Linked DNA regions of Homo sapiens: region 1 is linked to region 2. Evidence: fine-mapped expression QTL. A gene starts in region 2. The other region holds a variant in brackets. All regions are shown on one strand. Distances are between the middles of the regions. Region 1 overlaps IQCH (IQ motif containing H). Region 2 holds the start of MAP2K5-DT (MAP2K5 divergent transcript).

Region 1 (8,309 bases), 110 kb before region 2:
TGTATATTTACAAAATAAAATCCCAGGCCAGATGTGGTGGCTCATGCCTGTAATCCCAGCACTTTGGGAGGCTGAGGCAGGAGAATTGCTTGAGCTCAGGAGTTCAATACCAGCCTGGGCAACATAGAAAGGTCCAGTCTCTACCAAAAAAATTTTTAAAATAAACAAAATTAGCCAAGCATAATGGCACTCATCTGTGATTCCAGCTATTTGAGAGGCTGAGGTAGGAGGATTGCTTGGGCCCGGGAGGTCAATGCTGCAATAAGCTGTGATTGTACCACTGTACTCCAGCCTGGGCAACAGAGACCCAGTATCCAAAAAAAAAAAAGAAGAAGAAAATCCCAGAAACAGGAGGATCAAGATAGTCTAGAGCAGGAGTTGGTAAACAATGGCCTACAGGCTAAATCTGACCCAGCATTCATTTTATGTAAATAAAGTTTTATTGGAACACTAAAAAATAAATAACTTCTCCAACAATGAGAAACTTGAGTCTTTATCCCTCAATATAGTTACTTCTTTGCTTAGTCAGTTTACTTATTTGTTTAATGTAACTAATCTCCCAACCACTCCTGCCATCTTCTTTGCCTACTCTATCTGTGCCCTACCCCTCCATGCCTCATGTGCTTGGATCCCAATCCTGTCATTTGTGTTTTATTTGTAATACTCTTCATCATACTAAAGTTTCATATAGTCAAATCCAGCTGTTTTTCTTTTTTCTTTTCTTTTTTTTGTAGAGATAGGGTCTCACTATGTTGCCCAGGCTGGTTTTGAACTCCTGGCCTTGAGCCATCCTCCTGCCTTGGCCTCCCAAAGTGCTTGGATTACAGGTGTGAACCACTGTGCCTGGCCTCCAGCTCTTCTTCTAAATTGCTATATTACCTTGAACTTATCACTTTCCCTCATTTTCAGTTTTCTCAGCTATAAAATGAGGAGGTTAGCTTATTTTGCATCTGAGGTAACCTACAGTTCAAAACAGTCTTTATTTCAATAACATTTTAAAGCACTTATTTTCTGTATCAGCAAATTCAAATGTTAATAATAATCATCCACTTTAAAAAAATTATCACCAGGAAATAATCACAAAGATTTAAATACACATATATTAATCACATCATTATTAAGAATAGCAAAATATTTCAAGTAGTCTAAATTCCAATAATAGATTTTTTTTTTTTTTTTTGAAGCAGAATCTCCCTGTGTTGCCCAGGCTGGAGTGCAGTGGCATGATCTTGCTTCACTGTAATCTTTGCCTCCCAGGCTCAAGTGATTCTTGTGCCTTAGCCTCCTGAGTAGCTGGGATTACAGGCACACACCACACCTGACTAACTTTTGTATTTTTAGTAGAGACGGGGTTTCGCCATGTTGGCCAGGCTGGTCTTGAACTCCTGGCCTCAAGTGATCCACCTGCCTTGGCCTCCCAAAGTGCTGGGATTACAGGCGTGAGCCACTGCACCTGATCTCCAACTATAGAGAATATTTAGAGCAAATTATGATAGTTCAATGAAATTGCATACTATGAAGACATTAAAACTAATGTTTTTAAAGAATATTTAACAGGAAACTTTATAGAATAGATAAAGGTAAAAAGCAGATCACAAGCAATATATGCAATATGATAATTTTATAAAAAGAAAAAAATATATAAATGCAGAGTTAAAAGAACCTAAAGATATATACTAAGATGTTACAAGTCATTATTTCTGGACAGCAAGATTGAAGGTGGCAGAGTAATGGTCCGCTAAAGATATCCACACCCTAATTCCCCAAATCTGTGAACATTATGTTGCATGGCAAAAGGACTTTGCATATGTGATTAAGTTAAGGATCTTGAGTTGGGAAGAGTAGCTTGCATTATCCAGGTGGCCCCAATATAATCACCAGGGTCCTTTTAAAAGAGAGGCAGGCCGGGTGCGGTGACTCACACCTGTAATCCCAACACTTTGGGAGACCGAGGCGGGTGGATCACGAGGTCAGGAGTTTGAGACAAGCCTGACCAATATGGTGAAACCCCATCTCTACTAAAAATACAAAAATTAGCTGGGCATGGTGGCACGTGCCTGTAATCCCAGCTACTCAGGAGGCTGAGGCAGGAGAATCGCTTGAACCCGGGTGGTGGAGGTTGCAGTGAACTGAGACCATGCCACTGCACTCCAGCCTGGTGACAGAGTGAGACTCTGTCTCAAAAAAAAAAAAAAAAGAGAGAGAGAGAGGCAGGGGGATCATAGAAAGAGAAGGATTTGAAGATGCTGTGCTGCTGGCCTTGAACAAGGAGGAAGGGACCATGAGCCAATGGCATGAGCCAATGAAGGCACATGGCCTCTAGAAGCCAGAAAAGGCAAGGAAACAGATTCTCCTCTAGAGTCTCCAGGAGGAACAAAGCCCTGCCCACATCTTAATTTTTAGCCCAGTAAGACTTCTGACCCACAGAGCTGAAAAATAATAAATCTGTGTTGTTTTAAGCCAGGAAGTTTGTGGCAATTTGTTGCAGCAGCAATAGGATACTAATATAGAGGGTGGTTGCTATTTTGTTCTTTGTGTTTTCTGCAAAAGTAAACATGTATTATAGTCTAGGCTCAGTGGCTCATGTGTATAAACCCAGCACTTTGGAAAGCTGAGATGGGAGGATCACTTGAGTTCAGGAGTTTGAGATCAGCATAGGCAACATAGCAAAACCCTTGTCTCTACAAAAAATTTTTTAAAAATTAGCTGGACATGATGATGTGCACCTATAGTCCCAGCTACTCAGGAGACTGAGGTAGGAGGATAATTTGAGCCTGGAAGATTGAGGCTGCAGTGAGCCATGATCGTGCCACTGCACTCCAGCTTGAGCAACAGAACGAGACCCTGTCTCAAAAAAATAAAAAGCAAACATGTATTATATTTCTAATCAGAAAAAAATACATGAATAACGATAACAAAAATTTGTATAGAATGTTATTGTTTGCAAAGCACTTTCACATACATGATCTTACTCACATACACACAGGTCTTACAATAAGACATGGGAAACAGAAAACTGAGGTGACTGCATCCATTTCAAATTCATGCCCATTGGCCCCAGCTGGGCCCCATAATTTACCATGCTGACGCAGGAGGGGCAAAGGGGACTGGGGGCCAAGGCAAAATAGATAAAATGACAGCAATGCCTCAAGGACAGTCCCACAATTGTGAATCAACTCCAGAAAAGAAAGTGGAGAATTCTTTCTAGACCTAAGGAGATGAGAATGAGGTTCTAGCAGAATAGAAGAAGTTGTGGAAATGTAAGACTTAAATATTGGAAGCATCAAGTAGAACACACGGTCATTTTGTAATCAAGGAAGAAGGGGCTGGTCCCTGGGAAATGGAGATGGTGGAGCATGGTCTAAGATTACTCCTGCCAGTGGATTTAGGTCCAGGATTTTGGTACCCTAGAAATGGGGAAATTCTAGGCCTTCAGAGATGGCACGCAGAGTACATGGCACTCCAGAATACACAGAGCTACAAGGCAGCCATGTTGGAGATCTG[G/A]CCTTCCCACATAAGGATAATATTATGTAAGGGGATCCAAGCAGTAAACAAATAGCAGCAAAAGCTATTTCCAAATCCTGATGGGTCCTGGAGCCAGGATCAATGATAAACAGTATCTAGTAGGTTCTAGGAGGGATATGAAGTACTTACTAAAGGCTTTAAGTTGAGGAGGATGACAAGTTCATTGAACAAACACCTTCAGAGGACCTACTCTGGCTTCCTGTTAGGTGCTGTGGAAATAAACAAGACATCTTCTGTATCATGACAAAGCTTATTTCATATCCATCGTCCCATTTTATTTGCTATACATGCACACAATTGTTTTATACTTGTATTGATTCATAGGTATAAATATTGCCTCCATGAGATTTTTTTAATCCTTTAGAAAATGTACTAGGCCTTGAATTTTTTTTACCTCTTCATAATGTCTAACACAATGATGGTCATATTTGGCCAGCCACCTGATTATTATTTGTTGATTTATGGACTTTTGGAACTTCTAGATGATCCAGATCTTTTGTAGTTAATTACTCACTTTGGGGAAACTCTAAAAAAAACAAGTGTTTATTGAGCATCTATTATGTATAAGCCATAATGCTAGGTGCTAGAGAAGCTACAAAGATGCAAAAGACATGGAAGTGCCTGCCCTTAGGGAGTTCACATTCTAGTTGGGAAGATAGGCTTGAAAAATGAGTAGCAAGGAAAGGCTTAAGTGACAACTACGTAGAACAATAAAAGAGACATCAAAAAGGTAATATCAGTTTAACGGCCAAATGATTTTTCTACATGCATTCAGACAAGAGAAAGATCCCTTCTGTTGGGAGCAATCAAGAAAGGTTTTGCAGAGAAGGTGGGATTTGAGCCGAAAGAAAATTAGGATATGAGGAGGGTAAGAAAGAGTGTATTCCAAGTGAGAAACAGGCTCACTTGGTGGGAAAGAGTGGTGGGAAAAAGCACAGAACACATATGGATAAAAATGATGATCTAAGTCTTACAAATATCATGTTGGATTCACCTCAAGTAAATATACATTTATATAGCAATTCTCCCATTCCTGTTCCTCATATAAAAGTCTCTAAACAAATAGATTGGCAAAGATGCTCTATATGAAAATTCCCAAATTAAAAAATTCTTTCAGAACAAGATCATGTCCTGCATTTGCAGGGACATGGATGTAGCTGGAGGTCATTATCCTTAGTAAACTAACACAGGAACAGAAAACCAAATACTGCATGTTCCCACTTATAAGTGGGAGCTAAATGATGAGAATACAGGGACACATAGAGGGGAACACCACGCACTGAGGCCTATCAAAGGGTGGAGGGTGGGAGGAGGGAGAGAATCAGGAAAAATAACTCCTGGGTACTAGGCTTAATACCTGGGTGATGAAATAATGTGTACAACAAACCCCCATGGCACAAGTTTACCTGTGTAGCAAACCTGCACACGTACCCCGAACTTAAAAGTTAAAAAAAAACACACATTGTTCTTTATATTTCACAGGAAATTGAATAGATATAAGGTTCATTAATTATCATAGAATTTAGTTGAACATTTCCTACCAATATCAATAGTTTTTTAGATTGTAGCCTCTTGTTTCTTGAGGAGCATGGTGATCTGGCTTTTACCAAATAAAAGCTTCAGGTGATGGAAAAAGGAAAAAAAGTTCTTTTAGCCTGGGCATCAAGACTCATCTCTAAAATTAAAAATAAAAAATTAGTTGGGCATGGTGGCACACATCTGTAATCCTACCTACATGGGAGGCTGAGGCAGGAGGATCACTTAAGCCCAGGAGTTGGAGGCTGGCTGCAATAAGCTAGGATCTCGCCACTGCACTCCAGCCTGGATGACAGAGCAAGACCCTGTCTCAAAAATAAATAAATAAATTAACTCTTATTTTAGATAATTGTGAACTTTGAAACAACAATCTGTATTATAAGCATTGATAGTTAATACTTTTTTTGAAAAAGGAAATTAAAGAAAATCCAAGCTTTAAGAAGAATTGATATGAAAACTAGCTATTGGAGAGTAGTAATGGCCCTTCCAAAACATAAAGTTAGCTACAGAAAGGAAATAAGACTTGTCACAAAGTACAGATTGTGAGGAAAGATGAAAATGGAGGCCCTGATATATACCGCAGTATATCCCATAAAGTCTGAAAACGATTTTTAAGAGTTTCTAAATACAGAATATCAGCCTAGAATAAAAAAAAATCTGAAAATATTTTCATTGCAATGGCAATGGGTTCTGGCCCCAGTCTTTCCACTAACTAGTGTGATACTGTAGACAATTCACTTGACCAATCTGAGCCTTGTTTTTTTGTTATCAACTGGTAAATTCCTGCCCTCTTCCTCACAGTATGTTCTGAGAGGCTAAGCAGATATAAGGTGATGTTCTTATTAAATCAAATGGCATAACCACATGTAAAACTGTCACAGGAGCCCTCAGCAGGTGCTCAAACTGTGAGTTGAATCAGAATTGAATTAGCATTATTTTTAAAAGTCACTGAGCATTATCATCATCTCAAAGTGATATATAAGCATCAAAAATGAATACATTTATTTCAGAGAATGGAAAAACCAAAGTCTACAGAAATATCATAATTCCTTCTTGTTCACTGCTGTATACCCAGCACCTAGCACCCTGTCTAGCATATAATAGATGTTCAATAAATATTTATTTAATGAATGAATGAATACTTCTCTAAATCCCCCTCTAGTACTCTCATTTGCAAGATCTCCCCTATCTCTGTTTTCAAGATATACAAGGTATTCACCAAGGAAGCTCAATGAGATTTACTTTTTCTCTTTAGGGAAAGTATTTTATTTATATGGAAGAAGGCTAACAGAGTATATCTAAATTAAAATGTAATACGCCTTTGGTATTAACAGAAGTACCTATTATTCAGTGTTTTAAAGTGCTATAGTGGGCAGATTGTTAATCACAAGTTAATGCCTAGTGAAGGGAAAATACATCCCAAAGGACTTGGAAGCATTAAAGTAAAAGACCTTCTCCCTTTAAAAGGGCTGTATCTTTGTGTCAATGAAAGAGACCTATAATATGCAAGTAATAGTAATGATGATGGCAATGATGATGACTTCTACAATAAGCACATGGGCAATGATGACAAATTTTTCCAGTGAAAATTACAATTCTGTTTCTTAACACTGATAGTGCAGGTAAACTAGTGGCCAACTTTGCTATGTATATATTACCATTTGTGACTGTCCTTAAATGTTTGGTTAACCCCCCTTACACTGTAAACCTTCACACTGAGAAATATTGAACCCAAGCCTAAATATCAGCTCTTGGGTAGGATTTTGGTTGATCTGCATATAACGGACCTAATTCCTCTGTTTACATCAGCTGTTCCCCCAGGACTTCCTCAAAAGATGCCCATTCTCATCATGGAGCTCTTTGCTTCCTTTCAAATGAAACCAAGACACCTCTCTGCACTTAGGGATCTTTAACTTGAATCACCAGAAACATGGCCAGGGCGAGGAAAATCTGGACACTCACACTGCACCCTGCTGTCTCCAGCAGGTACTACATTTCTGCAGGACTCAGGAGGGCAGGAGGTAGGAAAAAAGGAAAAGGCTCCCTACTAATGCCAAGAAAGACCATAAGATTCTTCACCTATGAGCATTTATAGCTTGCCCCAGCATCCCAAAACAAAGCTGAAAGTTGTTTCTAGTTCCAGCTGTCACCTGTGGTCAAGACTTTTTATGTGATAAATTTTCTCTTACAAAATTGTCCTTCTCCGATCCCAGCTTTATTGAGGTATAACTAACCCAAAAAAAGTATTTTTATTTAAGGTGTACAACATGATATTTCAATATAATATACCTTGTGAAATGATTACCACAATCAAGCTAATTAACATATCCATCATCTCACTTGGATGTGTGTGTGTGTGTGGTCAGAAGTTAAGATCTACTCTCTTAGCAAATTTCAGGTATATAATATGTGGTTATTAACTATAGTCACCATGCTATACGTTAGGTCTCCAGAATTCATTCATCTTATAACTGAAGGTTTGTACACTTTAACCAGCATCTCCCCATTTCCCCCACCTTCCGACCCCTGGTAATCACTCATCTACTTTCTGTTGCTATAAGTTTGACTTTTTTGGATTCCACATGTAAGTGAGATCATGCAGTATTTGTCTTTCTGTGTCTGGCTTATTTCACTTAGCATATTATCCTCCAGGTTCATTCATATTGTCATGAATGACAGAATTTCCTTCTTTTTTAAGGCTAAATAATATTCCAATGTGTATATACATGCATACATATATACACACACACCACAATTTCTTCATCCTTTCATCTGTCATCAACTGACACTTAGGTTGTTTCCACGTCTTGGCTATTATGAATAATGCTGCAATGGACACGGCAGTGCAGATATCTCTTCAAGATTTTATTTTCTTTGGCTACGCACTCAGAAGTGGGATTGGTGGATCATATGGTAGTTCTGTGTTTAAGTTTTTGAGGAACCTCCATACAGTTTTCCACAGTGGCTGTACTAATTTACATTCCCACTAACAGTGTATAAGGGTTCCCTTTCTCCACATTCTCACCAATACTTATCTTTTGTCTTTTCTTTTCTTTTCTTTTTTTTTTTTTTTTGAGACGGAGTCTGACTCTGTTGCCCAGGCCAGAGTGCAGTGGCGTGGCTCACTGCAACCTCTGCCTCTAGGGTTTAGCGATTCTCCTGCCTCACCTACTGAGTAGCTGGGACTACAAGCGCGTCACCACGCCTGTATTTTTGTATTTTTTTTTAATTTTTTTGTATTTTTGTAT
Region 2 (8,300 bases):
CAAATGAGCAACAAGAATAGGTAAAGATGTTCAACATCACTAATCATTAGAGAAATACAAATTAAAACTACAGTAAGATATCACATTATACCCAACAGGATAGCTACTATAAACAAATATAGAAAATAACCAGTGGTGGTGAAAACATGGAGAAATTGGAACTCTTATGCACTTTTGGTGAGAATGTAAAATGGTACAGCCACTCTGGAAAACAGTATGGTGATTCCTCAAAAAATTAAACATAGAAAATATGATCCAGCAATTCCACTTTTGAGTATACATCCCAAAAAGTCGAAAGGAGAGACAGGAACAGATATTTGTACCCCCATGTTCATATCAGCATTATTCACAATAGCCAAAAGGTGGAAACAACTTAAATGTTCATTGATAGATGAATGGATACACACAATGTGTTATATACACACAACAGAATTTTGTTCAGCTTTGAAAAGGAAGGAAATGGCCAGGGGTGGTGGCTCATGCCTGTAACCCCAGCACTTTGGGAGGCCAAGGTGGGTGGATCACCTGAGGTCAGGAGTTCGAGACCAATCTGGCCAACATGGTGAAACCCTGTCTCTACTAAAAATACAAAAATTAGCCTTGTGTGGTGGTGGGCACCTGTAATCCCAGCTACTTGGGAGGCTGAAGTGGGAGAATTGCTTGAACCCAGGAGGTGGAGCCTAGATCATGCCACTACACTCCAGTGTTGATGACACAGCAAGAGTACATCTTAAAAAAAAAAAAAAAAGTAAGGAAATGCTGACACATGTTACAACATGATGGACCCTGAAGGCATTATACCAAGTGAAATAAGCCAGTCACAAAAAGGCAGATACTGGATGATTCTATTTATATGAGGTATCTAGAGTAGTCAAATTCATAGAAATAGAAAGTTGATTGGTGGTTGCCAGGGGCTGGAGGGAAGGGGAAGTGGGCAGTTGTTTAATGAATATAGAGTTTCAGTTTTGCAAGATGAAAATCTGGAGATTGGCTGTACAACAGGATGAATGAATGTATGTAACACTACTGATCTGCACACTTCAAAATGAGTACAATGGTAAATTTTATGTGTATTTTATCACAAGGAAAAAAATCACTAGACATCTAACTTTTCAGTAATGTGTCTATTTTCAGTTAAATTTGCCAGTTAACTGAAGCCAATATAGGCCAGTTTTCATATTCCTTAGTGTTATCACACTGGTGCACTTACTGTTTTACCATTTTCCCTTCTGATTTCATTTTTCTGTTAGCATTTACTACTATCTAACATATATTTTACTCATTTGTCTGTGTTCCCCATCAGAATATAACTTCATGAGGGGAGGGATTTTCTATTACACTTAGTGAAAAGTAAATCCCTCAAGTAGGAACACTACAAGTAAGCACAGTTTTTTTTTTACAGTAAGTTTGCTTAATGGCTAGTAAACTATCTCAGCCAGTACCTGAGTGACTATTCTGACTTGTATCATTTAACAAGAAAAAAGGCCTGGCGCGCTGTCTCACGCCTGTATTCCTAGCACTTTGGGAGGCCGAGACGGGTGGATCACTTGAGGTCAGGAGTTCCAGACCAGCCTGGCCAACATGGTGAAACCTCGTCTCTACTAAAAGTACAACAATTAGCTGGGCGTGGTGGCACATACCTATAGTCCTAGTTACTTGGGAGGCTGAGGCAGGAGAATCGCTTGAACCTGGGAGGTGGAGGTTGCAATGAGCCGAGACTGCGCCAGTGCACTACAGTCTGGGTGACAGAGTAAGACTCCGTCTCAAAATAAATAAATAAAATAAAATAAAATGAAAAAAAGTACTAAATGCAAACTTCTTAAGATCACATGCAACTTCGATGTTAAATACTAAATATTCCTTAAATTTAGACAGTATTCAATTTGGTAAAGATCAGAAAGTTATATTTTGTCATTTATGATATCAAGTGGAATGTATTATCAGTGATTATGATGCTTCTCGCAATGAGAGTTATAACTTTCTGGAAAAATCCTTGCTCAAATCATCAAAGTTAAGATTTCTTACTACATAAAGGCTATGAAGAGCTGACGTGTAATTATATTGGCTCTGCAAATATTGGAACAGAAATATGAGTTTGCCATTAGTGTAAGAAAAGCTTCAGAATATGTATGCAAATTTGGCAAATTGAGTTGGTTTTCCCCACGGTACTTCGAATAAAAGAGACATTTTAACAAATCACAGGTTCATAGAAAATCTCTAGTTTCGTGGTCTATTTTCTAAAATAATAGGAAATGAACTTTTAATAAAAGTACATGAGGACTTTTGATGAACGGTTTATTTTTCACAGAAGTGAAGTGCAGGTGAAAAGGGGAAATTCCTAGAATATCTGAAGGATCTGACTAAATGAATTTCTACCTAAGCTATTGATTTACAGTAACTTAAAATGTGATAATTTATCTCCTACAATGGCCTTTCAAATTAAATATAAAAGTAACTCAGAGTAAAGTATGCAGAAAAAATTTTGGTATTGTAACTGAAAATGACCAACATTAATTTTTTTCTCTCACATTAATCAAGCACCTTACTGTTAGAAGGGAAACTGACAAGCCTCCTCAACCGAGTTTATACAAAATTCAACCCCAGAAAGTAAAGCCAATTCGTGCACCTTCATAAGAAAGAAATAAAGGACGAACCTACACATTACAATTTGTAAAGAAACTTCTGTAGAGGCACCATCGTTCTACAACCTTATGCACTTTAAAATCTGAGGTAACAAGGCATTTGAAGATAACCAAGGTTGGCCGGGCGCGGTGGCTCACACCTGTAATCCCCCCAGCACTTTGGGAGGCTGAGGTGGGCGGATCACGAGGTCAGGAGTTTGAGACCAGCCTGGCCAACATAGTGAAACCCAGTCTCTACTGAAAATACAAAAATGAGCGGGCACGGATGGCGCACGCCTGTAGTCCCAGTTACTCGGCAGGGGTTGGGGGCTGGTGGGGGTGGTAGTGCTGAGGCAGGAGAATCGCTTGAATCCGGGAGGCTGAGGTTGTGGTGAGTAGAGGTCGCGCCGTTGCACTCCAGCCTGGGCGACGGAGCGAGACTCCGTCTCAAAAAAAAAAAAAAAAAAGATAACCAAGGTTTATTGCTACTTCCGTGATATCACCATATCACCAACTGCGTAAGCAGTGCTATTTAGTTGAAAATACATGGACTAGACCGAATATTTCTGCAACAGTTTAATAAGAGACGATGATGCGACTACTGCAGCTGTCCCCAGGCAATTAAACTCTTCGGCGAATTTCTTTACTATTGCTTTTGAACAGGGAACTGTTTGCTATTTTAGGGCACTCGTGCGGTAAAGAACTTCACTGAAAAATGCAAATATGTTTTGCTAATGTGGGAGAAAGATGATGATCCTCTGAACCTGTGACTTGGAAGGGGGGATAAAAAAGAACTATTTCTTGAATTCTTGCCTTGCTCTTGCTGATTCGATGCACACAACCCCACGAACATTCAGATTCATGGCTTGACAAAGTGGGGATAACCGGGAGCTGCAGCCCCGTCTTTGAAGCTTTTGTAAAGACAAACGGTCTGCAATGTTAAGCCTTAAATTGGCTTTTGGCGGACTCCAGCCTTTTACCCTTCGTTTGGTAGATGTTTTCACCTCGCTGTCATTAAGCAGGGTCAGGAAATGGAAGGGCCGTGACCGGGTCGCCGCGGGCGCTCTGTGGGCGATGAGGGTCTCCTGAGCGAGCAAGACCAGTCTCTCCCCGACTCGCCACGCGCCACGCGCCGCGCGCCGCGCGCCGGTTCCTCGGCTTCCCACGCCGGGGGCGCATCCTCCCGGGAGCTGCTGCCCTTTTCCAACATGGCGCCGCGGGAGGCGGGTCCCGCTCGTCGGCTCCCGGGGTTCCGGCGCCGCGCGTTTTGGTTCCGGAGTAACAGTGTCGCCGCCGCCTTCCTCCTCCTCCTCTCGCCGCTACCGCCGTCGCCGCCGCCGCAGCCGCCGCCAGTCCGCGCGGCCTCGGGTGGCCGGAGCTCAGCCTGCGCGCGCCGCGCCCTGTGTCTCCGGGTGGGGCAGAAGACTCGCCCCTTGAACCTCCCGCGGGGACTCTCCGTGGTGTGGCGGCCCTGGGGCTCTTTCTTAATAGCCCCGGACTGAGTCCCCTCCAGTCGAGGACCCTCTCCTAGTCCACTGACGAGCGGTGGACACCTGCCGCTGTATCTCCCCCAAACCGAGTCCTTGCCCTGCTGCCTCCTCATACCCACACGGCGGCAGAGACCTTCACCATAGCGTTCGCTCAACTCCAGAACCTTCCGACCTCCGCTAGTTCCTGCGGGCCTTTGCCCGCTTCCCGGTGCACCCTCCCCGGGAGACACCTCAGACCCCCGACAGCCTGGGCAGGCTCGGTGCCTGCGGGTGCGTTCCTGATCACCCCTCCCCTCTTCCCTCCCCCTCATCCTCCATTCCCTTGTTTTCACCCTCTGTCCTCTGCCCGTCACTCCCCTTGTCACCTCTTGGAGCCCCCTCCTAACCAGCGGCCAGTGGGTTTCCCATACCCCAGGATGTGAGCCTCTTTAACCTGTAATGCTGTGGCTAGCCCTTGGCCCCTTTCCTGCCATGGAGAACCAGGTGCTGGTAATTCGCATCAAGATCCCAAATAGTGGCGCGGTGGACTGGACAGTGCACTCCGGGCCGCAGTTACTCTTCAGGGATGTGCTGGTGAGTGGTAATCTCAGTGTCCGGATGCCAGCAAGGGGGACTCAGGGACTTGAGTAGTCAGCACCTTGACCACTGGTGACCTGAGCCAGTGGCAATGGCTACTGCTGGCTTCCTGTGGAGGCAGTTTTATTGCTTCAGGCACAGCATTGATAAATTGCAACCACTAAAACCTGGCAAATGTCTAGGACCCTGGGGAGATAGATCAATCTGACTGAACCCCTGCCCTCAGAGAGCTCATGGCCCGGGCTGGGACACACATATAGACACAACCACGCAAATGCAAACTGCTGAATCTAGAAGAGAGGTTTTTTCCCCCCAAGTGTTTCGGGGAATGTCCTTGGACAGATTCCAGCCTTGTTTTTCTACTGAGTTCTCTGAACTTGGTGACCAGCTGAGAAAGGGAAAAAGGACAACTTTAACTTACCATGTTTGAGCACACTGTTTCATTAATTTATTTTGAGACAGGGCCTCACTCTGTCGCTCAGGCTGCAGTGCTGTGGCACGATCTCGGCTCACTGCAGCCTCTGCCTCCTGGGCTCAAGCGATTCTCCTACCTCAGCCTCCCAAGTAGCTGGCACATGCCATCACACCTGGATAATTTTTGTATCTTGTAGAGACGAGGTATTGCCATGTTGCCCAGGCTGGTCTTGAACTCCTGCGATTTGCTTGCCTCGGCCTTCCCAAAGTGCTGAGATTACAGGTGTGAGTTACTGTGCCCAGCCTGAGCAAACTTAAAGCATCATTGAATGTAAGACATTTTACTTAGAAAAAAATGCTAACCATGACAGTATGACACATCATCCGTTATTAAAATGAGTCCAGTTTCAGAGACGGTAAAAGTAAGGGAAAATGTGCATCTTAGAATTGGTGATATTTTACATTCAGATTTTTCAGAATATATTTCAAATAAAATGATGGAATTTTAGAGCAGAGTGTAACACTGTAGGTGGCCTGTTCAGCTGATGTTTCTTTTTTGCAGATAGTTACTGAGGAGCAGTGAGGTGAAATGGCTTTTCCAAAGCTGTGAGCTCCTGAGTGGGAGAGTCAGTACCAGAACTAAAATTTTGTTTCATTGACTTAGTAGGTTTCTTTCCCTACATGTTGCAGCCGCTTCTAATCTTTCTGGTATTCATTTGAGATAGACAGGGTGCCTTGTGCCCATTCTACATGCAGAATAACTGAGGCATGGAAGACAGAAGCGGACATTCCGAAAAGCACATCACTACCTGCAAGTTAAGAGTGGGCAAGGTGGCAGGATCTTGGGAAGAGGAAGATTTGTGATGTGATTTTTCATTGTCTTGGGTAACTTAATCAAAATTTGATTTCTATAACTTCATTTTGAGTTCTAGATGTTACTGACTGCCCAGGCCATGCAGATTTTTGGGTGCCTTGACCAGGAGCTTTCCATATTGTGCATCAAATGCCATCCTTCTCTTTGTATCCGGAGTTCTCCACACAGTCATGCACATACAGATTTCCCCTCATGATAAGGCCCAGGCTCCTTCATGTGGTCCTCTGGGCACATCTGGATTGGCCCCTGTCTGCCTGGCACCTGTGTCATCTCTCTTCACGGCCCCATAAACTTCTGTGCCTCACTTACATAGGTTGATTTTCATTTCTCCCAGGTGTCCAGGCTGTCTGCACTCTGCTCTTCACCGGTCAATTCCCACCTGTCCTTCCAAGCCAAGTTGTGCTTTTTCTCTGTGTCATTCTTGGTTATGTGCCCCACCTCTGTGTCGTCACAGCTTTGTGTGGGTCCCCCAGCAAAGCACATGTTTGATCATGATTCTTTGTCTCCTCCACTAGATGGTAAACTTCTGGAGGAGATAGATATGTTTGTTTTTGTTTCTTCATAGGACCCCAAAATACTTGTTTAAGAAGGGAGCTTAAAAGAGGATGCATGCAATTATGGTTCTGTGGACAGAACACTAGGTTTAGAGTCAAGGAATTTGGGTTTAATTGCAAGCTGTCCCACTGACTAGGCAAGTCAGTCTACCTCTCTGAGCCTTAGTTTCCTTATTTGTAAAACAGGGAAACTTGTACCTTCCTCAAAGACTTGGAAAGATTATGTGAGATTGTGACTGTGATGAGAAAGATGGGTTTTCTCTTACTCATTTAAAACAATGGAAGGTTGATTATTATGTGATTATATTATTTGGTTATGTGATTATTTCAAGAATAGCCCAGTGTTTAAGACCACAAACTCTGGAGCCAGGTTGTTTAACTTGCAAGTTGTACTACTGGGGCAAGTATCTTCTGTATCTCAGTTTCTTTATTTGTGAAAAAAAAGTTGGGGAGGGGTGAAAGTAATGCCTACCTCCTAGAGTTCTGAGGACTCCTTGAGTTGATACATGTAAAGCACTCAGAACAACTTAGCACATAGTAAGCGCTCCATTAGTGTTGTTATTATTGATGGGATTGTTATTATAAGGGATTGGACTTGGGTCTTCTGTTTCTTGAGCATCTCTAAGTTGTACCTGGCTCAAGGCTGACTGGCTTAACAGGAAACACGAGTGGCCCCACCACTAGAGCTCAGCATGCCAGGTGTCTGCACACTTTTGGCTAGGTAAGCCCAGGTGGAGCATGTTTTGTCAGAAAGGCCTGACGAAGGACCTGTGGCAGTGGGTGTTCAGTGCTATCTCCTAGTGCTCCATTTTAGCAAATGTTCAAGCCCAGATCATGGCAGACTCCTGTGATCTGTTCTCCAGGTTTACTTCATCTCTTCATCAAGAAAAGGCAAGAACCAAGAGACACGTCAGCATCTCTGGCTTGGAACCTTAAACTTTAAAGTCACGTGGAACCTGGAAGAATCCCCTCATCTAATTCAGACTCATTTCGAATGAAGAGGCATGAACCCCACAGGGGGAAAATACCTTGCTAAAGCCACCCAGCTAATTTTTGGCAGAACCTGACACAGATGCCAGAAGCAGGTTGTAGTCACCGAGTCAGCCATAACTGAGTGTCTCGGACCTGAAGTCAGCAGTTGAGGGCTCCAGTCACTGTGCATCAAATAGCTGGGAGACCCTGGGCAAGTCAGTCGGTCTCTCTGGGCCTTGTCTTTTGTCTGAATCATCAGGGACTGGCTGAACTATGGAGGCTGACCTGACCCTCAAAGGTAGAGACATTTGGGTCTTCTGTTTTGCAGCTTTCTGTGTTTCTCTTTTTCCCTGGAGACTGAGTTCCTAGTTTTGGGAAAACTATACAAGAGGTCTGGTTAGTGTGTGATGAGAGAGAATGCCCAACCCTCTCCCCTCTTCTTTTTGTATTCTGTGGTCTCCAAGCTCAGATTTCCCCTCATCTATAAGACTTCTGGGCCAGGAGTGGTGGCTTAGGCCTGTAATGCCAACACTTTGGGAGGCCGAGGTGGGTAGATCGCTTAAACTCAGGAGTTCGAGACCAGCCTGGGCAACATGGCAAAACCCCATCTCTACAAAAAATGCAAAAATTAGTGGGGGCTTGGTGACACTCACCTGTGGTCCCAGCTATTAGGGAGGCTGAGGTGGGAGAATCTCTTGAACCTAGAGGTCGAGGCTATAGGGAGCTGTGATTGCACCACTGCACTCTAGCTTGGGTCACAGAGCGAGACCCTATCTCAAAAAAGAAGAAAACACACACA

Evidence for each region. PIP is the estimated chance that this variant, and not a neighbour inherited with it, causes the effect. A credible set is the group of variants that fine-mapping cannot tell apart.
Region 1: its variant is the best candidate, but not a certain one, in a credible set for the expression of MAP2K5-DT in esophagus mucosa (GTEx, PIP 0.82).

Annotation. Positions count from the first base shown.
Region 1 is chr15:67,426,667-67,434,975 of GRCh38, forward strand. All of the region lies in intron 16 of IQCH (IQ motif containing H), which reads left to right. It overlaps IQCH-AS1 (IQCH antisense RNA 1), which reads right to left. Exons shown (of 6, transcript NR_040052.1): 4 at 3,655-3,734. Among named protein-coding and RNA genes, the nearest start is that of C15orf61, 90 kb to the right of the region's middle. The variant G/A (reference allele first, on the strand shown) is at 3,505.
Region 2 is chr15:67,538,787-67,547,086 of GRCh38, forward strand. MAP2K5-DT (MAP2K5 divergent transcript) reads right to left here and starts at 3,844. Exons shown (of 1, transcript NR_186334.1): 1 at 2,282-3,844. It overlaps MAP2K5 (mitogen-activated protein kinase kinase 5), which reads left to right and starts at 3,917. Exons shown (of 22, transcript NM_145160.3): 1 at 3,917-4,684. The coding sequence starts at 4,550. RefSeq lists enhancers at 734-823, 2,857-3,357, 3,010-3,059 and a silencer at 3,933-4,052.